2 separate regions of the Homo sapiens genome follow, and region 1 is linked to region 2. The links come from fine-mapping of genetic effects on gene expression. A gene starts in region 2. The other region holds a variant in brackets. All regions are shown on one strand. Distances are between the middles of the regions. Region 1 holds the start of SNORA7B (small nucleolar RNA, H/ACA box 7B). Region 2 holds the start of EFCAB12 (EF-hand calcium binding domain 12).

The links. PIP is the estimated chance that this variant, and not a neighbour inherited with it, causes the effect.
Region 1: its variant is fine-mapped to the expression of EFCAB12 in whole blood (TOPMed, PIP 0.96).

What each region holds. Positions count from the first base shown.
Region 1 is chr3:129,388,513-129,398,287 of GRCh38, reverse strand. It overlaps SNORA7B (small nucleolar RNA, H/ACA box 7B), which reads left to right and starts at 940; the gene lies at 940-1,078. It also overlaps the pseudogene RPL32P3. RefSeq lists enhancers at 2,876-3,572, 8,675-9,775. The variant G/A (reference allele first, on the strand shown) is at 4,965.
Region 2 is chr3:129,423,135-129,432,909 of GRCh38, reverse strand. EFCAB12 (EF-hand calcium binding domain 12) reads left to right here and starts at 4,274. Exons shown (of 9, transcript NM_207307.3): 1 at 4,274-4,470. The coding sequence starts at 4,422. MBD4 (methyl-CpG binding domain 4, DNA glycosylase) reads left to right here. Exons shown (of 8, transcript NM_001276270.2): 7 at 304-407; 8 at 1,332-1,963. The coding sequence ends at 1,409. RefSeq lists a silencer at 4,088-4,137 and an enhancer at 8,320-8,369.

The sequences.
Region 1 (9,775 bases), 35 kb after region 2:
TGGGATCTCTTTTAATGCTAACGCTGGTCAGCTGTGCCTGAATTCCATAGGGAGAAGGGCATAATGAGGCAAGTTCGACCCCACATTCCCATTATGGCTTGAACTAGTTTTTCAGGTTAACTTTGGAATGCCCTTGGCCAAGAGCAGGAGTCCATTCAGTTGGGTGGGGGGCTTAGAATTTATTTTTCGGTTTATACCGTGCTTACTGATGTTGGCCCACGTGCATTCATTCATTGCCATGACCCCACGTTCCTTTCCTTCTAGCCTGTGACCCTAGGGCTGCTGTGGTGGGACTGCAAAAAAAAAAAAAAAAAAAAAAAAAAAAAGATGGGGTGCAGGTCAGCTCACTCAGTTGTTAACAGAGATTTTGATCGTCAGGAGCTCTGGGAATATAAAGATGAAACTTCCCCCTTGCCTTCAAGGATATCATGGGCCAGAAGGCAAAGTTGTTTTGAATACGTGGTTCATTGAGTACCCACTCTGTGCCAACTGATGGCTGCAAAGAGAACAGAAGGGGTGCTGCTGTAGGAAATAAATGAATGGCTCAGAAGACCACACTGAGGAAGTTGTGAGTTGATAATGGAAGATCTCCAGGTTTGAGGCATCCTTAGAGGGATATGATGGTTTTGTGTGTGTTGGGGGTGTGGTAGCGCAGCTGCTACCTAGGGAATTAGAAGGTTTTCTTTATTGAACATTTACCCTGTGACAGGTACTGCAGGCATTCAGCACACAATGTCGTCTCCATTTTACAGGTGAGGAAACTGAGACTCCAGTTCAAGTAGATGGTCAAGGCCAGTACTACCGGAAGGACCATCTGGGGGTTCAGACACTGGCAGGGTGGGATTTGCTGCCCCTTGCAAATTGAGAGTGTCTTGGGGTCAGTTTTGATTTGCTCAGCTGTTGGCATTCTTTGGGCTCTGAGTGGGTGAGGTGACCCTTGACCTCCTGGGATCGCATCTGGAGACTGCCTAGTATTCTGCCAGCTTCGGAAAGGGAGGGAAAGCAAGCCTGGCAGAGGCACCCATTCCATTCCCAGCTTGCTCCGTAGCTGGTGATTGGAAGACACTCTGCGACAGTGTTCAGTCCCTGGGCGGGAAAGCCTCCTTCCAGGATTCTTCCTCACCTGGGGCTACTTCTTCCCCAAAAGGCATCATGGCTGCCCTCAGATCCCTTGTGAAGCCCAAGATCGTCAAAAAGAGAACCAAGAAATTCATCCGGCACCAGTCAGACCGATATGTCAAAATCAAGGTGTGTGGTCCTGGGATGGAAATGGGTGTGGGGTGAAGAAAGGAGTTTCCAACAGGCTGCCAGTTCTGACATCACCTAGTCAGGATTACCTTTGACCGATGAACTGGTTTGTGGAAGAGCTTTCTGTGGAAATACAGGTCTCCCCCAGTGTGCCCTAGTGCTGGTACTTACGTCTCTTGATGTGTGAAGTGAAACTTTAATGAAAAGGGACACTTGGCCATTTTGATATGTTTGGAGGGCTTTGCATTTGTATCATGTATTTTGGGTTGCCTTATGACAGCAGGATCCCTATTTTATAGACAAGAAAACTCAGAGGTGCTGAGAGCAGTGTCTGCACCTGTGCTCGCCATCTCAATATCTACACAGTCCCCTCGCATCCCATTGGTGTCTCCATTTCTTGGGAGTGAGAATGGCGGGGGTGCCTGCCTTCCTAGTGGCAAAAGCCACGAGCTCCTGGTTTTTCCCACCAAAAAAGCATGTAAGGAAATAGTGAAGTCCTATTACCAAAGGCAACTACTGTGTGGCATACTTCCTTTTCATTTGGTCCTTTTTTCCCTCCCCTATGGAACAGTTGGCAGTCTGCACAGATGCTAACCCACCTGTGTATTATTTCCTTCAGCGTAACTGGTGGAAACCCAGAGGCATTGACAACAGGGTTCATAGAAGGTTCAAGGGCCAGGTCTTGATATGATGCCCAGCATTGGTTATAGGAGCAAAAAAAAAAAAAAAAAAAAAAAACCAGAAAGCACGTGCTGCCCAGTGGCTTCCGGAAGTTCCTGGTCCACAATGTCAAGGAGCTGAGAGTGCTGCTGATATGCAACAAGTGAGTTGGGTCCATCTCTGGTTTCAGGGGTCTGAAGTTTGCATCTGTGCGGGCACTTCTGGCAGGAACTCTGGAAACTCTTGGGATGCATTTTGGGAAGCTGACATTCTCTGAGGGAATGTGAAGTCATTCCTTACAGGAGTTTAGAGAATGCTTGTTTGGGGCCAGGTGTGGTGGCTCATGCCTGTAATCCCAGCACTTTGGGAGGCCGAGGTGGGCAGATCACCTGAGGTCAGGAGTTCGAGACCAGCCTGGCCAACTTGACGAAACCCCATCTCTACTAAAAAGACAAAATTAGCTGGGCGTGGTGGTACACGCCTGTAATCTCAGCTACTCAGGAGGCTGAGGTGGGAGAACCAGCAGGAGAGGTTGCAGTGAGCTACGATCGCGCCACTGCACTCCAGCCTAGGGCGACAGTGAAACTCCATCCCAAAAGGAAAAAGAGAATGCTTCTTGGGGAGTTCAGTGTGTTTCCTTTGTTGGAGAGGGGAGAGACTTTTGTCCTCATAGCTGTGGAGTCCCAAGACCAGAAAAATGGACTTTGCTTGACACAGTGAACACAGCAGTAATCACCGGTTTTCAATATAATATCTTTTGGCTGTTGTTTCCAGAATGTTGCTTTATTTATGAGGGAATTTGGGGAAGATCAAACATAGGCCTCAGACTTTAAGAGGCCCTTTATGCTTTGGTAAGGGGTATTTTCAGGGGTACGGAGGCTTTACAACCAAATGTGAACTAGAGGGAGAATAAGAGGAAGACTTTGTGGACAGAGAGTACTTTACACAAAGGTGGAGAGTGCAAGGAGGGGTCACAGGACATTAGTGCTAGGTAGTGTTTACGGTTTGTTTTTAGAGACGTTTCTACTCTGTTGCCCAGGCTAGAATGCAGTGGCCATTAACAGCTATGATGATGGCCTGCTGCACCCTTGAACTCCTGGGCTCAAGTGATCCTCCTGCTTCGCCCTCCCAAGGTGCTGGGATTACAGACATGAGCCACCATGCCTGCACAAGAACAGCAGGTTTAAAAAACTAGGCAAGCTCACGCCTGTAATCCCAGCACTTTTGGGAGGGCGAGGTGGGCGGATCACAAGGTCAGGAGATCGAGACCATCCTGGCTGACACGGTGAAACCCCGTCTCTACTAAAAATACAAAAAAAAAAAAAATAGGCAAGCAGAGGCAGCAGGGGCAGTCTGTGTGGGGTACAGGGGCAGTCTCTGTGTGTGCGCAAGGGTAGTCTCTGTGTGTGTGTGTGCAAGGGCAGTCTCTGTGTATGTGTGTGAGTGTGTGTGTGTGCAAGAGCAGTCTGTGTGGGTGCAGGGGCCGTCGGTGTGTGTGTGTGCAGGGGCTGTCTCTGTGTGTGTATGTGTGTGTATGTGTGTGCAGGGGCAGTCTGTGTGTGTGCAGGGGCTAGCTCTGTGTGTGTGTGTGCAGGGGCTAGCTCTGTGTGTGTGCAGGGGTAGTCTGTGTGTGTGTGCAGGGGCCGTCTCTGTGTGTGTGTGTGTGTGTGTGTGTGTGTGTGTGTGTGCAGGGGCAGTCTGTGTGTAGGGGCCATCTGTGTATGTGTGTGTGCAGGGGCAGTGTGTGTGTGTGTGCAGGGGCAGTCTCTGTGTGTGTGTGTATGTGCAGGGGCAATCTCTGTGTGTGTGTGTGTGTGTGTGTGCAGGGGCAGTCTCTGTGTGTGTGTGGCCTCTGCTCAGCTCCTGGGAAGGGGCTTCTGATCCTCTGTCAACATCAAAGGAGCTGGGCCTTGAAAACCTATCTCAGCCTCCTGGTCTGAATGCAAAGCCATCGGACTCTCTTCCTGGGGCATTTGGTTATGTAAAGCCCTGCGCCAGGTTCCCAGAGTGGGTGCTTCAGCTTTGGGCAGCAGTGGGTCCTATCTCTGGGAACACCGACAGTGACTCCTTGTGTCAGGTAGGTGGGTGTCAGAGTGTCCTCATTTCATAAACAGGGACATTCAGAGGCCTTTGGCCCTTGCCCAATGTCCTGAGGCCAGAGAGCAGTGGAGTGAGCCTAGCCGTCCACAGGCTGTCCCACCCACATGCTCAGGATGCAGGGACTCACCGTAGGAAGAGGCGGAGAAGATGAAGGGCTGGCGGCAGTTGATGCAGACGTTGCCCAGGTTGTTGAGCAGCGGGTTGTTGGTGGAGCAGCGGTAGCACAAGGGCACCAACTCCTACAAAACAGCCACGGACTCCCGAGGGGCCGGGGCAGGCACGTGTCCTCCTCCCCCTGGACTCTGGCTTCGGGCCCCTGGGGCCTGGCTGCCAAGAGGAAAGGCCACCCGGGTGGGCAGGCAGGGAAGGGGTGCCAGGCCCAGGAGCTCCATGCCATGGGGAAGCAGGATAAAGGCCTGCCGAAATACCCAAGCCCTGTCACTTGGGTCCCTAAGAGGTGGGCATGATTATTTCCATCTTGCAGATGAGAAGAATAATGTCTGGGGTGAAGGTGAAGCACCCAGCCCAAGACTCAGCAGCCAGGAAGTGGCCCAGCGCTCTTTATACCACGGGTGCAGGAATTCACACAGAAAAGTGGAGGCCAAGGCGTGAGAATTCCTCAATGACTGCCCTCTAAAGGAAGAGGTGAGTGTGGGGCCTGCTCTGAGTGCTAAACACAGGCAGTCTCTGTGTCTCCCAAGGAACCCAATCGCTATCACATTTGCTTTAAATATTTAGAGACGCACGATTTGTTTCCTTGTCAGTCAAAGCCAAGAGGTGGCATGTGATGACATGCTGCCAAATGCTCAGGGCACAGACGGAAACTTTCATGTCAACCCTGACATAGTCACCACAGATCTCAATGGCCTTGACGTGCTCTCCTGCTGAGATTTACATCCCCACGGTGACTTTGGGCTCTTTCATATTTCTGGCCCAGTCAGCCTGTTTGGTGATTA[G/A]CATCTTTGTTTCTTTGGGGTCTCCAGATCCAAAGAAATCCTGAGGAAGCACAACAAACAAAAACACTCTGGATCAGAACTTCCTGTGCCAGCGTTACATCAGGGTTTTCTAGCAGCAAGGGCGGGCTCCACATGGCTGAAGCAGGCAACCAGGAGGTAGGCAGGGCCCGGCCCTGAGGGGCTGAGTTGGGGGAGTCCCAGGTCTCGGGAAGAGTGATCTCAGGCTGCCCTGCAGGTGTTCCTGGGGGATCCTGGGACAGCATCAGGGACGCTGGCCCCCAGTGCTTCCTTCCCATCTCACAAATGGGCATTTGTTCATCGGCTAAACAACACTTTCTAGACTATTTGGGGCACTGCACATGAAGTCTGCAGGGTCGGGGGTTCATGATCAGGCTGTCTCTCTCTCACATAGTTTGGTAAATACAGGACTGTTCCTAAACAGCAATGAGACAACCTGGTGCACAGTTCCACATATCGAGACCTGTCATCTTATTCAGATCATATGGGTGATACCACATGCTTCAGAGTGAGGCTGAGCATGGGTTCCCCTAAACTTACACAGACAAAATGACTTACAGTGTTTGCCGGCCCTCCGTGCCCTCCATGCCCTCTCTGAGTCACCAGCAAACATTCTGTGCCCTGAACTAGAGAATCATCACATTGTCTTTGCCCCAGTTACTTTCCTGGAACAGATAACAAGCAAACCTCTCTCTGGTTAGTTGCTTCTCGGCTGAATGGTTAGGGATCCTGTGCTGAGGTCAGGTCTGCAGGGGTGAGAACCTGATCCGACAGTGGGACAGCAGGAGGCCATGGGGGGATCTGAGGCAGGGAAGGTGCTCAGGAGAGGACCTGAGAAGGAAGAGATGGCTGTGGTCCTGGAGGCTCAGGGATCAGGCCTAGGGCCTGTGTTCCTTCGGCCTCAGCATACCTCTGAAGCGGTATGCCCAGCTTCTCTGGGCAGGCCCTACAATGTGTGAGAAACAGCCTCAGAACACCACCTCTTTTCAGGGTAGTTACCCAAAATACACACGTGGGAGTTTGCCAGAGTTGAGGCAGCTTTTAAAGGTGGAGCTTTTCAAAAAGGGAAACTGGGAGCACTTACAGCCCAGGTCTATGTTACTGGTAAGAAGTGGTTTGTCTCAGGAATAATGTACCCTGTGGAGAGTACTTTGTGTCAGCCTCACTGAGAACAAAAAAAGCACTCCTTTCCCCATGATTAACACTCATGTGTCAGGAAAGTACAGTCAATGTATGCTAAAAATCCACTTGAACAATTAGCTCGCTTTTTTCCCTCATTTGCTTTCAGAGTAAATGTGCTTTCAGAGTATTAGGTCGGCCTAATATATGATACATTTTAAGAAGGGGAGGAAAGCGCATTGTATACCCTGATGCTGGGACCCAATAGAAGACAGGCCCCCTGGCTGGCCTTTGGTTCTCCCTGGAGCTGACAAAGGGAAGGGGCTTGGAAAGCAGCCACTGTCCCCGCCTAGTTTGGGCCTTTACAGACACACCTTTCCTTTTGGCAGCTGCTATGGCACGGATTCTCTATGCCAGCACGAAGCTGGAAAACCTGCCTACCTGGCTGGTGAAATGAGGGTGGCAGCTGGAGGAAACAGGCATCTTAGGAGACTAGAAATGTCCTTCAAAGGGACTTCAGTGAGTGCTCAGGGGACCAGGGGTGACTGTGTTAAGAAGGGTTAGAGGTTGAGAGGGAGCCATGAGCTTGGGTCATCACCCCAGTGAGACCATCCAGGCACACAGCTCCCAGGCTTGGGAGGCCGCCTCCAGTCCACCAGGACCCTCAGGGAGCTGTGACTTCATTGAAGCTGGGTCTAAAGGCTTCCTTCAAGGCTCAGCAAACTGGGTTTTCAAAGATTTTTGATCCCTGAAGCTAATTTACACGTTATGTGGGGCCATGGCAAAGACTTGGCCCTGAAGTGGACAGAAAGAGGCTGTGCTGAGTGATGAATGAGACTAAACAGTGTTCTCATGCTTGGTGATTTTGATGAGAACATACTACATAAGAGTTAAGAGCATTATAATTCCCTTTATCACCATATAAACATGTCACTTATCCGGAAAGCATACAATTTATTTGTACATGAGAATGTAAATTTAAAAATTTTCTGAAAACTAGATTAAATCTTGAGAAGCAATTTTCAAGTAAACAAAAACATGCCATGTTAATCAGCACTAGATCTCCCCCACCCCCCACATAATGTGTATGTACACATTTCTCAAATTCAGACTGCAGTACAGCTGTCTCCTTGGAGGCGTCAGGGGTTCCTAAGCCTAAATTCTACCTCTAGGGTCTTGATCCCTCAAGAGTTCATCCTGAGTTAAAATTTTGTTATCCCCGGAAGCAGAGATGCACTGACTCTGGTGATCTCAGTATGAATGTGGTATGAAATCTTCTAGGTGTCTGTGGTGGGGCCTGAGGGAGGGTAGGAAAGGTGACGAGGAAAAAGTAGAGGGAGCCTGAACACCCTGGGTCTCAGGTACGGAGTGAAGAAATCACTAAGGTGAAAAGACAGGCTGGGGCCCAGGAGCTCGTCCAAGTCCTGATGAACAACAAGTCCTGGGCAACATCACAGGCCACCAAACACACCTTCAGCTCCAGGGTCGAATAGATGGTGGAAGAGCACAGCCATCTGGAAAATCAGAAAAAAGTGGGGAAGATTTTCTATCTTGAACTTGTGAGCTGGAGAATTACCATTAGTAGCCCACTAATAGGTTATGGCCGATGAGTCCCTTCATAACACACTGAGAGCCACTTTTGACACTCCCAGAAAAGGCAGGTTAACAAAACCCCTTGATGGAAGGAAGACCCTCATTGCCCAATGTACCCAAGCCTCTTTGAACCTTGCTTAGACTGAACTGCAAATGTCTTGACTGCTCTGGGCTCCTTAGTGCAACTCCTTCCCACAGAAGCCATCAGGAGCCTGGTCCAGGAAGCTCCTCTCCTACACCTGCCTTAAAAGGCCCAGCTCTGCTGGGGAGTAAGGTTCATGGGGGCCGTCCCAATGCAAAAGGGAATCTCTGCCATCACCCACTGCAACCACATGGTAGCCACTCTGCAGCCGGCAGGCGTGAGGCATGCTGCGCTAACATGGGAGGGCGGAGGCTCTGCCTGACTTCCCAGAAGCCCAGTGAGAAGTCCAGGACAATCAGCAGGTGCTATGGGAACCTTGGCTGGCAGGCACCATGTCGTCCTGTATGATCGGCAGGACCGGCTCCTTCCTGAAGACACCGATTCTTGGCGGCTCCTGACAAGGATTGAGAGGATTTGTGGGGGACAGCCCTGAAGCCCTGAGCCCTCAACTCAATGAAGGGATTGTGCTGGTGTAGACCCACAGCCATCCAGCTCTGTCACTGATGAAGGTCTGAACTGCCATACTCTGCCCCTTTGGTGTCAGCCTTAAAGGTCAGTTTTAGGTGAGTTTCAACCAGTGGCTGTAGATGGGTCCTTTGTTTACCAGTTTCCCCACATCCTGTCTGAGACCATTGCTAGTTTTTGTCTGCACCAGTCTTAGGGAAAACAACCTGGACACCGTGGGTGAGATCACCAGTGGGCTCCAAGCCAGAGCATGGGCCTGGGACAGGGTGGGTTACCTTGGCATACTCTAACATACTCAAACCTCATTTCTTTTGGGGTGATCAGACCCAACAGCAGGTCATGGGGGCGACGAAGTCCAGTGGAGTCCAAGGAATGAGAAAGACAGTTTGAGAGACAAAATGGGACCAGGGGGCTATCACAAGTGTGGAGGCTGCAACAAACAGGTGGTGAGGATGTGGGGGTTGAAAGGAAACGGTGTATCAAGTGAATGAGAAACATATGGCTACTTGAGAACATGGGAATGCTAGAAGCAAGGAGCAGCAAGTCTAGCAAACATGCAAGCCCTGCCTCAGCTTCTCTCCCAACACTCAGCTTTTCTTCCAACACATTTCATGTGCAAGGTTCTCGTGCCCACTCCTCTTGTACAGTTTGGCAGCCTCATGGAGCTTCCCTGGTAGGAAAACACATCTGCCAGAAACAGGTCATTGTTGGTCTCTCCCCGCTTCTTCCTCTCCTGGAAAAATTAGAAGCAAAGGAAATGGCCTCTGCAGCCATGGGCAGAAAGCAGCCTTTACAAAGGTTAGATGTGGCTATTTCAAGTGAGGCCCCTGGGCCTTCCTACTGGAACCTGGGCTTGGCTCCTGGCTGTTGTCTCTCTCCCCTAGGTTCCCGCTGGGAAGGCTTGATAACAAAAGCAGGCTTTTACCAGACAAGCAAAGATCAAAAAAAGATGCAAACCTTTGTTTGTTTAATGGAAATTCCTCAGGGTTGCTTTCCTGTGTATTCCAAAGCTATGACGGAATAGTTTGAATAGTGTGTGCTCTGACTCATCCATGACCCCTAAGCTCCCAAGATCTCCCAAATCCGCAGGCCCCGTTTGGCAGAGTTGTGGCTCATGGGGATGACAGAGCAGAATGTTTAGGGTTTCTGCCCAAGAGGGAGACCAATAAAATAGGATGACAAGTCTTACGATGTCCCTACTTCTAAAGAGAAGGTAAGAAATCCCGTGCTGAACATCCACTAGGTTCTGGGTATATACTTTATACACACATGGCCCCTTTATTCCTCTCAGTGACCCTCAGGGTAGGTCTCACTACCCAAGTGTTAGAGTGAAGGACGCTGAGACCAAGAAGAGGAACAGGTCAGGGTCAGACAGAGCTGGAATTTGGACACAGTTCTGTCTGACTCCAGATATTCCTTGTATCACACAATACTGTCTTCTGAAGCAAGTGATTGTCCCCAACACACACACACA
Region 2 (9,775 bases):
CCAGCACTGGGTCAGGCATGTGGGCAGAATTAGGGGAAGAAGTCAGTGAAGCAGAAAGCCCAGTTCTTGACCTCAAGGACATGACTTCTGTCTTGTTAGCACAGCACAAAAGAGTGGTTAGGAATTGGCAAATGATATGGGTGCTGCAGGAATTCAGAAGGAAGAGTAATCACAACTGGGGTTGCTGGGAAAGAGCCTTTCCTGTCCCTTTCTGCTGTTCTCTCCATCCTGCCCCATCACCACACATTTTGGGAGGGTGTCTTTAGAAGCTGACCTGATAATGTGGGATGTTGTATTCTTCAGATGAATACCTGACAAAGCAGTGGAAGTATCCAATTGAGCTTCATGGGATTGGTAAATATGGCAACGACTCTTACCGAATTTTTTGTGTCAATGAGTGGAAGCAGGTGAGGCTCACTCCCATCCATAATTCAGCACATTTGGTCTCTGAGGCAAAATAAGTCCACCATTATGGTTAAGACTATTTATTGGATACAAATGCTATTACAGTCACAAACAATTGTGTTCCTGGCTGCGGGGAAGCGGGTGGCATGTGGGTTTTGGGGTTTTTGATCAGTAGGCGCTCCCAAGTCCACAAAGACCAGTCCAGCGGCGTGGCCTCTGACTCATCTCCAGTGGTTTGTCACCTCTGGCCCTGTTCCTGTCATTCCCTATTTGTGTGCTATCTCTAAGCCTGACGTGGTTTTCCTCCTGTCAAAAGTACACCACTACAGGAAAGCAGGAAGGTTTGGGCCTGCAATGTATGCATATTGGGTTTCTCTTAGTGGTCTCAGACTACGTTTGTGGTGACTGGGTCCTGCTTCAGCCCTGTTGAATATGCCCAGCCTGTGGCATGCTGGTGGTCATCCTGGCAGCTGGTGGGTGGCCTGGTATGCTGCCCACTCAGCTTGAGACTCACCCTCATGCATTCAGCCAGTAGGTCTGGCCAAGCCTGAACTGAAGGACCATGGTCCTATCCCAGCTTCATCAGAGCAATCCATTGTGACCTGAGAATCCATTTAACCTCTCGGTCTAGAACCTCCTTCTGGAAAGTGAGGTATTAATACTTGACTCATGTTATCGCCACCCCACATTCTAAGTCATGGTTGAGTAGTAATTTGGACAGTACCTTGTAAATTGTGTGAGATTACCTTAATATAAGGTATAACTTAAAATATTCATGAATCCCAGGAGGTTAAAGGTTATAACTTTTAGGTATGGTATCGTAATGTACTGTCCCCCAGCAAACATTTAAAAAGCCAATTTTAAAAAATGTATTTCTGACTAAGTTACATTAAGGTCTCTGCCTCTGTATCTTATGTTTCTTCCAGGTGCACCCTGAAGACCACAAATTAAATAAATATCATGACTGGCTTTGGGAAAATCATGAAAAATTAAGTCTATCTTAAACTCTGCAGCTTTCAAGCTCATCTGTTATGCATAGCTTTGCACTTCAAAAAAGCTTAATTAAGTACAACCAACCACCTTTCCAGCCATAGAGATTTTAATTAGCCCAACTAGAAGCCTAGTGTGTGTGCTTTCTTAATGTGTGTGCCAATGGTGGATCTTTGCTACTGAATGTGTTTGAACATGTTTTGAGATTTTTTTAAAATAAATTATTATTTGACAACAATCCAAAAAAAATACGGCTTTTCCAATGATGAAATATAATCAGAAGATGAAAAATAGTTCTAAACTATCAATAATACAAAGCAAATTTCTATCAGCCTTGCTAAAGCTAGGGGCCCACTAAATATTTTTATCGGCTAGGCGTGGTGGTGCATGCCTGTAATCTCGGAAGGCTGAGGCAGGAGGATCATTTGAGCTCATGAGGGCCCAGGAGGTCAAGGCTTCAGTGAGCCATGATCATGCCACTGCACTCCAGTCTGGATGACAGAGAGAGACCCTGTCTCAAAAAATATATATTTAAAAAATAAAAATAAAAGCTGACCCCAAAGACAAATAAGATTCCTCTGGCATTGTGTATTGTTGACAGCTCCACACTAGCTCTTAGGAATTGTAGATTCCACCCCAGTATCCATTTGATAACCTAATGTGAATATGGGCCTGCTGCTCCATTTCAGCTCACTCACTCTTTTACCTTGGTCCCTTTGTGAAAACTCATTTCTCATCTTCCATTTGGAGTTTATACCATTTGGCCAGGCACAGTGGCTTACACCTGTAATCCTAGCACTTTGGGAGGCTGAGGCAGGAGGATTGCTTGAGCCCAGGAGTTCAAAACCAGACTGGGCAACATAATGAGACCCCGTCTCTACAAAAAATTTTAAAAATTAATTGGGCATGGTGACATACACTTGTGGTCCCAGCTACTCAGAAGGCTGAGGTGGGAGAATCCCTTGAGCCCAGGAGATTGAGGCTGCAGTGAGCTATGATCACACCACTGCACTTCAGCCTGGATGACACAGCAAGACCCTGTCTTAAAAAAAATAAGTCTTAATGCCATTTTTATTACAAGTATTGTTACAGTTCAAATACCAAAGCATTTACTATTAGAAAGAAACCAAGGGAAAAAACTAGTTACTATGTCTTAATTACCAACTACCATTTTAAGGTATAATTTGAAAATTAAATTGATTGAATAAATGAAAAATAAATCAGTTGTTCAGGAAACTGCCTTTGTTGTAGGGCAGTGTGAACCGAATCAGGCTGCAGTGTGATGCAGAGGTAGTTGGTTGTTTCCACTTTAGTGAGTGTCAGTTTTTAGAAGGATAGATTTTGACCAGAGAACAGGAAAACTGGCCACACCTCCCTCTCCCCAAGGCAAACCCACTTTATAGTTTACCATCACATTTTCATTTAACAAACATCCAAGTAGCATTCACAAAGTGTAAAGCCCTGTGGTGGGGAGGGGCACAAAGATAAACAAGTTCTGTACAGACCCTCACAGAGAGAAAGAAGGGCACCTAATAATGGAAGGGAACAAAAGCGGTAAGGAGTAGGGACAAGACACCCAAAGAGGGTGGAGAGGGGCCTCTGAAACCTTGGGCCCAGCTGGGCCTGGAGGGTGGGGCGAGCTCACCAAGCTCAGGGCATCAGGTGTGGCTTTGTGGTAGGGCTGGTGGTCACATACCTTCCCCCAGCATCTCCATGGGGAGTGTGGGCCCGTGTGAATGCAGGAGGCGAGCTCTGCACCAGGGGAGCTCAGGACACAGCCAGGTTGCTCAGGCTCTAGGCCTGGCTTTTCCTGTTTCTTGCAGGTGAGGTTGCCTGACCTCTGTACCTGTTAACTTGTCTTTTAAAAATGGGATAGTGGTGTCTACCTCACACAATGATGGTAATTATGAAGTTCAGACATGTAGTGCTAAAATGGTACCTGGCTTGCAAGAGTGCTGTGTGAATGTGGCCCATGGCAACAATCTGTTTGCAAGCGTCACAAAGATAGCTTGTCTCAGCAAAGGAATAAGGGCTTAGGTGTTTCTCTTTAACTTTTTAAAAATTGAGCTAAAAGCCACCATTTAACCATTTTAAAGTGTACAGTTCAGTGGTTTAGTACATTTACAGTGTGCAGCCATCATCACTAATTCCAGAAGTTTCCATTTCTTTTTTCCACTCCAAAAAGAATCTCTCCACCTGTTAGCAGTCACTTCAATTACTCACCCCATCCCCTAGCAACCATTCATCTACTTTCCGTGTCTGTGGGTTCGTCTATGCTGAACATTTCACATAAATGGAATCATACAGCACGTGGCCTTTTGTGTCTAGCTTCTTGCTTAGCATACTGTTTTGAAGGTTTATCCATATTGTAGCATGTACTTCATTCCTTCTTATGGCCATCCTATGGATATACCTCATTTTGCTTATCAGTTGATGCACATTTCAAGGGTTTATTATTATTCTCTGGTCCTCAGGTTCTGTAACTCCAAACCATGGCACCCTGCCATAAGCGGGGCAGAACATACCCAACACCTCTATCTGGCCACAGCTCACTTTGGTTCTTCCTAACCCTCTGGAGGAGGCAGGGCCTATTTTTCCTATGAGAAAACTGAGGCCTAGAGATATGGAGACCTGCGGAAGATCCCACATTTCACGGGAAAACCGGAGACTTTCTACACTGGATTCAGGGACTACTGGGCCGAACAAAGAAATCCCGCCTTTCACCAAGCCCAGAACTGGGCGGGGCGTGGATTTGCTCGCTGCCCCTCCCAGAATTGGACGAAAACGAGGTGGGGCCAGCAGGCGCTCGGCAGGGCGGGCTCGCTCTTAACACGTGACAGCGCTCAGCCAATTGGCGCGGGGCGTCCGTAGCCACGGCAACAGGTTGCTTCTGCAGTCTGAGCTGAGCGCCTTTCGCACGACTTGGAGTTACGGTTTATCTGATACCCCGGTACCCCTACGCAAGCAAGCCCACATCGACACACATTCACACACGCCCTTCAGCACCCCCTCCCAGCACCACGACCATGGACGACGACTATGAAGCGTACCACAGTCTGTTCTTGTCGCTGCTCGGTAAGCCCCGGGAAGAAGCGTCTGCAGGGAGCGCTCAGCGCCCTAAGGACGCGTGAAAGTGGGGTGAGGGCAAAAACTCAGCCACAGATATTGTGCCGACCCCCTCTGGGTGAAGGGTTGCCATGGAGTCGGGGGCAGGTCATGTACATTTCTGAGATTTCTATCTGAGCCTAGTTGGAGGAACCAGAGGCCCGACCCATGTGACGGGAGCCCTCCAGCTCGCCCTGTTTCTCTGCAGGACATTAATGTATTCAGTACTGGAGGAGAGGCATGGAGAAGACGTCAGTCTTCAAGGTTTTGGCAGTAATGTGCTGGGGACCAAGTTCTTGGCAAAGCAATGCAGCTTCACGGGTAAAGGACAGAGATAAATGGATAATTACAGAATAAGAAGGGGTAAATGCCGGGCCCAGGGATGACACCCAGGAGTAAAAGGTGTGCTGAGGGTATGGGATGGGGAGGAACAGTTCCAAGCTTTTGGAAAAGATCTTTACACTGGAGCTTAAAGGATAAAAAGGAGTTCTCCAAGCCAAAAGGGGAAGGAAAAGCATTTCGGGCAAGGAAACAGCATGACCCAAGAGGTCTGGTGTCTCTGGAAATGAGGTGAGAGAGGTCAGAAGGGACAAGATCATAAAAGATACTGCAAGCCAGGAGATGGAGAGGCCACTGGGAGTGGCAGGACTGGATTGGGAGCAGTCAGAAAAGACCTGAGACTGAGTTGGCAGACTCAGAATGTTGGTGTGGGGAGATGAGAGCTGGGGGCTATAAAGCTTGAAGACTGAAGGTCTTCTCCATGCCGCTTCTCCAGCACTGAACACATTAATGCCCAGTGGAGAAACAGGGAGAGCTGGAGAGGCTGGCCACCTTTCCCAGGCACACAGGTCAGGGCTCTGGTCAAATGCCCAAGCTAAAGATGCTGGGAGGTGAGGGAGAAGGCCCAGGCTAGAGGGAACTACGGGACTTGGGGGCTGGTTGGTCAGGAAACACAGAAGAGGCAAATAAAGATGGTTCTCAAGTTGGCAGCTGGGGGACCTGGTAGATGGAGATGTCTTCCACAGAGATAAGAGAACGTACTCAGAGGACCCAGTTAGTGGGGGAAGGGGCACAAAGACAAATCCAGTCTTGGTTGGTTGAGTTTAAGATCCTTGTCAGTAGCTGGGCACAGTATCTCACGCCTGTAATCCCAGCACTATGGGAAGCTGAGGCAGGAGGATTGCTTGAGCCCAGGAGTTTGAGAATAGCCTGGGCAACATAGTGAGATCCCATCTCTACAAAATTGTTTTTTAAAGTTAGCCAGGCCTGGTGGGGTGGCTCACGCCTGTAATCCCAGCACTTTAGGAGGCTGAGGTGGGTGGATCACGAGGTCAGGAGATCAAGACCATCCTGGCTAACACAATGAAACCCCGTCTCTACTAAAAATACAAAAAATTAGCCGGGCATGGTGGCAGGCGCCTGTAGTCACAGCTACTCAGGAGGCTGAGGCAGGAGAATGGCATGAACCAGGGAGGTGGAGCTTGCAGTGAGCCAAGATCATGCCATTGCACTCCAGCCTGGGTGACAGAGCAAGACACCATCTCAAAAAAAAAAAAAAAAAAAAGGTTAGCTAGGCTTAATGGCATGCACCTGTAGTCCCAGCTACTCAGGAGGCTGAGCTGGGAGGATCATTTGAGCCCAGGAGTTCAAGGCTGCAGTGAGCTATGATTGAGCCACTGTACTCCAGCTTGGGGAACAGAGCAAGACCCTGTCTCAATTAAAAATAAATAATAAAAAAAGATCCCCGGCCGGGCGCCGTGGCTCACGCCTGTAATCCTAGCACTTTGGGAGGCTGAGGTGGGCGGATCACCAGGTCAGGAGATCGAGACCATCCTGGCTAACACAGTGAAACCCCATCTCTACTAAAAATACAAAAAATTAGCCGGTCGTGGTGGCAGACACCTGTAGTCCCAGGTACTCGGGAGGCTGAGGCAGGAGAATGGCGTGAACCCGGGAGGCAGAGCTTGCAGAGAGCCGAGATCGTGCCACTGCACTTTAGCCTGGGAAACAGAGCAAGAGTCCGTCTCAAAAAAAAAAAAAAAAAAAAAAACAAAAAAAAACCCTGTAAGCCATCCAAGTGGAGATGTTTTAGGAACAACTGGAGGTATAAACTTGGAGCTAATTCCAAGTCAAAAATATTGGTATGGATGTCCCCAGCATACAGAAGGTCATAGAAACATGAGAATGGAAGGGATTATTTAAAAAGAGAAGAGACCCTGGGTATAAGCCTGGAAGCAACAACCTTTAAGGAGTAATCAGGAAAAGAGGGGCCCAAAAACAATAGCCGGAGAGGTAGAATTGGACATAGCAAGAGATTGAATCAAGCCAAGAGCAGGGAGAATTTCAAGAAAGAGTAGAATTGTTTCCAGACACCTATAGGCTGTCTGAGAAAAGAGAGAACAAGTGTGTTTTCTGGGACATCCATGGGGAGGACTAGAACCAAAGGGTAGAAAGTCCAGGGAAACAAATTCTGGGTCAATATAAGGAAATATTTTCTAGCAGTCAGAGTTTAGTGTCCACCATGTTAAGTAGAAAGTTCCACGTCACAGGAGATGTATAAACAGAGGCAAAGTCTGCCAGTGGCATTGAGGAGAGTGTCCCTGACCTGGGCAGGTGATTGAACTAGCTGGCGTCTGAGAGCTTTCCTTGCCAATTTCCTAGGAACATTGTCACATAGTCTCTACCCATAACTACACAATGACAGCCTCTTTTATTATAAGAGCCCATTTCCCTTTCTGTCAATGGACACAGGACTCCAAAGAGCACTAGAATGAAGCTCCCTGAGGAGGTTTGGTGGGCAGGCACCCTTGGAAAGTGGGGTCAGGGGCTGGTGCAGGTTTAGAACTGTGAGGAGAATGACTCGGCCAGGGGAAGCCCTGGGGAATGCAGTGCTCTTCAGAGGGCACAGCAAATGCAAAAACTGAAAACCCAGAGCCAGGAAGGAACAAGGCACCTCAGACAACAGAAAGGAGGACAGCAGCTGGGACCACATGAGTGAGGGGGCGGGGGCTGGGAGGTGACAAGGGAAGAGTGGGGAGCAGGGCCAGTGAAGGCAGCTTTGTAGGCCACAGAAGGAGGCGGGTATTTATTCAAAGAGCACTAAGAATCCATTGAATGGTTTCAAATGGGGAAGGGACAGACTGTGAATTTACATTTGTAAGGCTCTCCTGGCTGAGGGCAGAACATGGATTGGGGGTCTAGGGAGGACCCAAATGGGAGCAGCAAGACCTGTGGGGAGCAGGTTTTGTGTTCCCGTGGCCTGCAGGGTAAAGTTTCAATCTCTTAGCCTGGCATTTGAGATGACGCCAACCTTATTTCCCACTAACCTCCTCCTTTACACACAGTGGGCTTCCAACATGTGGAACTGTCTGGTGACCCTAAAATCCCCAAATCCCACTCCTGACCTTTCCCCATCCCTGCCCCTCCACCCCATGAAGCCAGACCATTCTTGAAGGTCCACATCAAAGACACCTCTTCCTTGATGCCCTCCCAGGTCCCACAGTCAGCATTTCTCCCCCAACTGAGAACATCTTGTTACCCTCTGGGTGCCCCACCTTGTTCCATTGGGTGGACTGAGAACAGGTGAACCACGGTAGGTGCCCAGCCTAGTTTAATCTGCACCTGGTTCAGCACCAAGCCCTGGGGGATTCTCAATAAATACTGATTTGATGAATGACTACATTCTCAGTCATCCCCTGCTGGGAATGAACTTTCTTGTGGTCAAAGTAATGATACATGTGTTGTTTAGAAGTGTTCGCTTCCATCCCTATTGATGTGTAATATCTGTTCTAGCATTGCTATAAAGAACTACCTGAGACTAGGTAATTTATAAAGAGATGAGGTTTAATTGACTCACAGTTCCTCAGGCTGTACAGGAAACATGGCTGGGGAGGCCTCAGGAAACTTACAATCATGGCAGAAGGCAAAGACAGGCACATCTTACATAACCCAAGAAGGAGGAAGTGAGAGCAGGGGGAGGTGCTATGCTTTTGAACAACCAGATCTTGTGAGCACTCGCTCTCATGAGAACAGCAAGGGGGACGTCCTCTCCCATGATCCAATCACCTCCCACTAGACCCCTCCTCCAACAATGGGGATTATAATTTAACATGAGATTTGGGCAAGGACACAGATGCAAACCATACCATGATGTTTACTTTTCTTATTTGCTGACTCTGAAAGGAACACATGGGCCTTGTAAAGAGACTTAACAAATGTACTGAATGTCCACTTTGGGCCAGGCTGGGCACCGAGGACACAGGGGAACTAAGACACAGTCCTGGTCACTGGGAAACTCACAGGCTGTTGGGAAAGAAAGATGCAGAAAGTATCTTCATTTCAGAAAAATATGGTAAATGCTTATGATGGGACTAAGTGTGGGGGCTATGGGACCCAGAGGGCCCATGAGAAGGGGAGTGGGAGGGCTTCAAGGGGCCGGGATGCCTGAGCTGAGTCTCAAAGGGTGAGTCAGGGATCAAGAAGTGAAGCAGGGAGGGAGAAGAGCATGTCACAGGGAGGAAACAGCATGGCTTGTGTGTGTTGGTGGGGCAGATCTGTTTGGATACAAACGTAAGGGAAGGCAGAAGGAGCCAGAGAAATCGGAGAGGCTGGTAGGGGTGAGAGGACCAGGTGGGGCCAGGTTAAGGAGCTTGAACTTTACTCTAGAGGCAGTTAGGAGCCATGGACAGGTTTTAAGCAAGGGAGTTTGGGTTTTAGGAGGAAAATGACAGTGACAGTATTTCCAATAAGATTGTTATATCCCTTCTGATTTTTTTAAATTTTTTTGAAAAAGGGTCTCTGTTGCCCAGGCTGGATTACAATGCGGGTAATCTCAGCTCACTGTAGCCTTGACCTCCCAGGCTCAAGTGATCCTCCCACCTCAGCCTCCTGAGGAGCTGCGACTACAGGCGTGCACCACCATGCCCGGCTAGTTTTTAAATTTTTTTGTATAGATGAGGTCTCACTATTTTGCCCAGGCTGGCCTTGAACTCCTGGGCTCAAGCAATCCTCCCACCTCAGCCTCCCAAAGTGCTTGGATTACAGGCATAAGCTACCATGCCTGGCCCCTTCTGATTTTTTAGAACACTTCCAAACTGTTATCTCATTTGATCTTCATAACAACTTCAAGAGGTAGATAGAGCAGAGTTTATATCATTTCAGAAGTAAAATACTTGAGACTCAGCAGGATTGGGTGACAGCCCTGGGTAATATCAAGTAACAGCTAAGAGCCGAGCTCTGGGGCCAGACAAACTGAAGTTCATGTCTCAGCTCTGCT